2 separate regions of the Homo sapiens genome follow, and region 1 is linked to region 2. A link means that fine-mapping ties the variant in region 2 to the expression of a gene that starts in the linked region. Tissue or cell type: whole blood. Region 2 holds a variant in brackets; the other region holds the start of a gene. All regions are shown on one strand. Distances are between the middles of the regions.

Region 1 (2,673 bases), 42 kb after region 2:
AAAGGAGGGGACAGGCCCTGTACCTGGGGGCTTTGGGGTGGATGCCTTAGATGAGGCTCTTCCTAGAGGCCACGGTCTGCGGCCCAGGGCTGGTCCGGCCTGGGAGGGGAACAACAGAACAGCAGGAGGAACTCAGGCCCCTGAGCTACTGTAGACTCTAAAACCTACCTGAGTCCCCACGCTCAATTGTAGAGCAGGCTAATTAGCACAAGGCTGGACTAGAAAGGGAGTCAAGGGCGAAGGCCCCGAGAAGCTCCCTGAAGACTCGTGCCCTGGTTGGCACAGGGGCCCGTGCCTGTCTGTGTGGAAAAAATGACAAGAGGGCGACCCGGACCGGAAGCAGCTGTGGACCTAGCGTGGACTCACTGCCTGCCCACTCCTCACCTGCAGGGTGCCTTTCAGATTGGCCTTGAGCCGCTGCCCGTAGTCCGGCACCGAGCCCTGGCGGCTCCGCCCTGGCGTAGACTGTGGACTCTTGGTCGCAGCCCGATTCAGATGGGGCCCCCAGCAGCGGGGCTCTGGCGCCTGCAGGAGACAACAGGGGCACAGGCCAGAAAAGGCTGTTGTGGCGGCAGAAGCGCTCCCAGCCACCCCTCCCGCACCTGGAGCGAGGCCCGGCCCTTCTTCACTTTGCCCAGTCCCCCTCCCAAGTTCTGTGCCCCACGGCGGCCTGGCCGCGACTCCGTGGCTCCCGCCACTCCGCCAAACAGGGAAGTGGGAGGAGGCTGGGGCGGCGGGGCCTGGGTACCTCTTCGGCCGCCGCGGGGAGCGACTCGGAGCTGCGGAGCCCGCCGCCGGCCTGGCCCGTGGTACGCTTCAGAGTGCGGTATTCCCGGTAGAGCGCTGCGTGGGCGAGCGGGAGGCGGGGTCAGGGTGGGGCCTGGGCCCCTGCCGACCCGGTGTCTTCTCGCCCCCGCCGCCCCGCCGCGCGCTCACCGCGGGTCTCCTCCGGCGCCGCCTCCACGTCGTCCTGTAAAGGGAACGCGTCAGCCGCGGGCCGCGCCCTCAGCCCCTCGGCCCCTGGGCAGCCCGCACCTGGCTCGGTCGCCGCCCGCGCTGCCGTCGGAACGCGCGCTCCCACGCCTGCAGCCGCTCCCGCACGTCCCGCAGCCGCTCCATGGCGCGCGCGCCCGCCCGGCCTCCGCGCTTGCGATCGTCCAGCGAATCTCCCGCGCAGCCGTCGCGGGGGCCGACAGCCAATGCGGATGCGCGGCGGGCCGGGGGCGGGGCCACCGCCCCTGGGCAGCCAGTCCGTCGGGCCTCGGACAAGCAGCCAATGGGAGGCGTCAACGTCATCGCGGGGCGCCGCGGCGCCGGGCGGGGAGCGGCGGACGGTCTAGGCGGGGCTGGAGGCGGTGGCTGCGGTTGCGGGACCGGTGAGCGCGGGCGGCCGGGGGGGTGTCTGAGCGGGGCGGCGCACGCCCCTGGCCCTGCCTGGCCTCAAGGGGCGGGGCACCGGTCGCTCGGGGCGGCCTGGCCGAGGGAGGCAGTGGCTGCATTTGGGAGCCCGGGGCCGAGGCCGGGAGCCTGGGAGGTGCCACCGCGGGCCGGGAAGGACTGGGAGTCCCCGGGCCGGTCGGAGCGGCGTCAGGCCCTGGTGGGAGACGCATCCGACCTGGAGGAGCAGGCCCCGCTCGGGAGGCGAAAGAGCGGAGGGTCCAGCGCCTCCCGCGGCTCGAGGCCCGGAGGAGCCGGGCGGGGGCGTCTTCGCGAAACGCAGGCGACCGAGGACCGTCGCGTTCCCTGCGGCCGGCGGGAGGGGAGGGGGCGTCGCACGGAGGTGCCTGCCTCCCTTGGTGGGCAGGCCGTCTGCTTTGGTGTTCTCCCGTGACAAGTGCTCGGTTGGTCTGTCCTGTCAGAGCGAGTATGATCGTTGAGATCTGTCCACCGGCAGAACTAGGCCGAGGGTTGGTGTCTGGGACTTTTCAGGAACCGGTGCCTTAAGGACTTACTTGTATGTGGAAAAGTCGACAAAAAGAAGGGCCTTGGGGCCAGAGTGTCTTCCCCGGCCCCCTTCCCTGGCTTGTCACTCAGGCTGTGACCTTGGGCCAGGCCGAGGCCTTCATTTTCTAATCTGTCACAGGGAGATGGCTGCGATTTAGTTTTGAGGATGCTACAGGCAGCAGCAGGGCTGGCACCCTGTGTCACAGGTACCTTGTGGCCTTGGGAGTGTTTGTGCATCTCTGCAGCTTGGGTGCTGCTGAGGCAGCTTTCTTTGCCTTGTCTGAGCAGTCTGTAGCTTTGCACCTTCTGAATCCCACATACTTAAGACTTGGTCTTTCCACAGTGGCTCTCCAGGGAAGAGGGAGAGGTTTAGGCCAGTGGTAAGGGCCAACAAAGGTGAGGGTTGCTTTCTTTCGGGGTCTCCGTGCTTGGTGACGCTCTGGAGAATAGTAGCTTTTGCGGGGGCTTGTATTTTATAGGCTACATCATCTGGACTCGGTGTTCCCTGGGTCTCGGTCTTTTCAACCTGCCTTGTTGCTTATGAAGCTGCTTCTGTGCTTCCAGCTCTTTGGTGTTTTGTGGAGTCCAAGTGTAGCCCTGGAGAGCATCTGTGAGGAGAGGGGAGGGAAAGGTGATTTGGCTGCTTGACTCCTTAGAGTGTCCCGTCAATACTAATGCTGATGAAGGTTGGTGGGGAGAGTCCTGGGCTTTATTCAGGTTTCGAAGAAG
Region 2 (2,609 bases):
GAATGGAGTCTTTCCAGCCCTCGTAGTCTTCCCTGAAGAAGGGGAACACGGCCTGGACCTGACGGATGATCTGAAACCGCCAGGCGGCCGGCCGGCGCCGTGAGCCCAGACGGGGAGGGGGTAGCGCCCTACCCCTCCCCCACTACCGGGCTCAGGGGCGCGCGGTGCCGGCCCCTGCTGTCCCCGAAGAAGGACATTTCTGCGCGGAAGCGCGGCAGAGAGGGCAAGGGGCTCCCGGAGAAGGGTCGTGCCTTGAGGCCCTCAGCTCTCAGGACTGGTCCCACTGGCATACCTGGGTGGGCTAGGAAGGGGTGGGGGTCAGGGCTTGAACCTGGAAGTGGGTGGGGAACGAGTCTGGGGAAAGAGAGAGTGGGGGCCGGGGCCCGCTCACCTGGGCCAGCTTCAGTCTGCGGGAGGGAGCGGCCTGAATCACCAAGGCGATCATGGCCAAGTAGGTGTAGGGGGGCTTGTCATGTCGCAGGTACCTCTTCTTCCTCCTCTTAGGGGGCTGGGAGGGCGACTCTGCCTCTGGGGGCCCCAGGCGGGAGCCGCTGCAGGGCCCCATGCGGGACGGTAGACAGCGTGGGCAGGGGCCTGGCCGGGTGGAGGGTGCAGGGCGGTGGGGCAGTGTAGAAGGCAGGGCCGGGACCTGAGGCCGGGCTGGGGCAGGCGGGCTGGGGCCTTTATCATTCGGATGGAAGGGGGAGGGGAGGGAAGGGAGGAAGAGGCTGTGGGGGAGGGGAGCATGCCGAGGGCTTCCACAATTAGCAGGTTTTGGTTAATCTGGAAGGGAGGGGCAGAGAGCATTCTAGTGGGGGCTTCTCCTGAGGCCTCAGTCTCCACCCCTGAGTTGCCTTTGGGTGGCCAGGCCCGGCTTCAAAGGGGCTGCGATGACCCATGGCTACTTTATCCCGTCTTCCCTGGTCAGGTTTCAGGACCCCATTTAACAAATGGGGGAGTATTTAGCCCATGCCAAGCTCCCAAGGCGTGGGGCGCTCCTGGAGTTCAAGATCTAGCAGCTGCTAGTAGGCCCTGAACTATGGGGGCTGGATATCCACCCAGGACATGATCAGGTGGAGCTTCCTGGAGGAGAAGGCCATGAAGCCCGCACCCTAGGAACAAGAGGGGGACACATTGACTCAACTGATTTCCTGGGAGTTGCTTCAGGAGCCCAGGTGGACCGCTCACCTCCTCCTCCCTAGCCATCTCTGCTCCTCCACCCAAGCAAGGCTGGTATTGTGTATCCTGCCCCAAAGCCCAGGTTCTCCTCCCTCACAAGGGGCAAGTTTGCCCAAGAGGATAGCAGCTCTGGGAATTAGCAGCGGTGGTTGGTGCTGGCACCAGGCCAAGGGCCCCCAGACACACGGGGGCCCAGGGATATGCTTTTGCCCTTCACTCTGAGAATTCAGCTTTTCTTGTGCAGCCTCCACCATGATAACCTCAAAGGGCTGAAAATCTGCAGCATACGGTGGGGTCCAGCACACCCTGAGGTGTGGAGGGGAGGGACAGGCAGCAAGTGTC[CAGG/C]AGGAGGAGGCCTGGGCCGCAAGGGGCCTTGTATGTGGGGTACCACACTGCTCCTGCCCCCCACACCCCCGGTCGGGTGGTGCCCCTTTTCCTTCTATCTCTGACTCTCCCCTCAGACGCCACGTGGTTTCCCTCAGGACTCCTGCCACCACCTCTCTGCTGTGTTCCCTAGGTTATGGCTGCACAATCCTGTGCCTCATGAGGCTAATACTTGTGGCCACTTCACCCCATTCGGTCAGCAAGGCGTCGTTCTTTCCTACAAGTGTTTGTTGTTGTTGTTGTTTTGAGACAAGGTCTCACTCTGTTGCCCAGGCTGGAGTGCAGTGGTGCGATCTGGGCCCCGTGCAGCCTCCACCTCCCCCGCTAGGGCGATCCTCCCGACTCAGCGTCCCGGGACTACAGGCGTGCGCCACAGAGCCCAGCTAATTTCTTAATTTTTGGTAGGGACCGGGCCTGCCTATGTTGCTCAGGTTGGTCTCCCGGGCTCAAGTGACCCACTGGCCTCGGCCTCCTCCCAAAGTGCTGGGATCACAGACGTGAGCCACCGGGCCGGGCCTTTCCCATAATTTTTTTTTTTTTTTTGAGACGGAGTCTCACTCTGCCGCCCAGGCTGGAGTGCAGTGGCGTGATCTCGGCTCACTGCAAGCTCCGCTTCCCGGGTTCATGCCATTCTCCTGCCTCAGCCTCCCGAGTAGCTGGGACTACAGGCGCCCACCACCACGCCCGGCTAATTTTTTTGTATTTTTAGTGGAGACGGGGTTTCATCAGGTTAGCTAGGATGGTCTCGATTTCCTGACCTCGTGATCTGCCCGCCTCGGCCTCCCAAAGTGCTGGGATTACAGGCGTGAGACACCGCGCCCGGTCTCCCGTAAGTTTTAAGGCACCCCCCTCTCCACTGGCGCTTCCTTGGTGGGGCGCTGGAGGCTCCCCAAGTTCTGACCGCTCTTCTCCGACCGCACTGTCCTGGGCCCGAAACCACCCCCAAAGCTGCCACCCATTCCGCTGGCGCCCGTCCCGTTGCCCGCGATGACTCGGTTTTGTCCAGCATAAATCAATGACCACCGTCCCGGGAGCCTTGGAGCACT

The links. PIP is the estimated chance that this variant, and not a neighbour inherited with it, causes the effect.
Region 1: LRRC14 starts here. The variant in region 2 is the best candidate, but not a certain one, in a credible set for the expression of LRRC14 in whole blood (TOPMed, PIP 0.74).

Annotation. Positions count from the first base shown.
Region 1 is chr8:144,516,666-144,519,338 of GRCh38, forward strand. LRRC14 (leucine rich repeat containing 14) reads left to right here and starts at 1,327. Exons shown (of 4, transcript NM_014665.4): 1 at 1,327-1,376. RECQL4 (RecQ like helicase 4) reads right to left here and starts at 1,168. Exons shown (of 21, transcript NM_004260.4): 1 at 1,036-1,168; 2 at 937-970; 3 at 749-843; 4 at 385-525; 5 at 1-99. The coding sequence starts at 1,119. RefSeq lists silencers at 773-1,522, 1,613-1,782.
Region 2 is chr8:144,475,192-144,477,800 of GRCh38, forward strand. FOXH1 (forkhead box H1) reads right to left here and starts at 658. Exons shown (of 3, transcript NM_003923.3): 1 at 392-658; 2 at 1-70. The coding sequence starts at 565. RefSeq lists enhancers at 1-2, 899-1,792. The variant CAGG/C (reference allele first, on the strand shown) is at 1,522.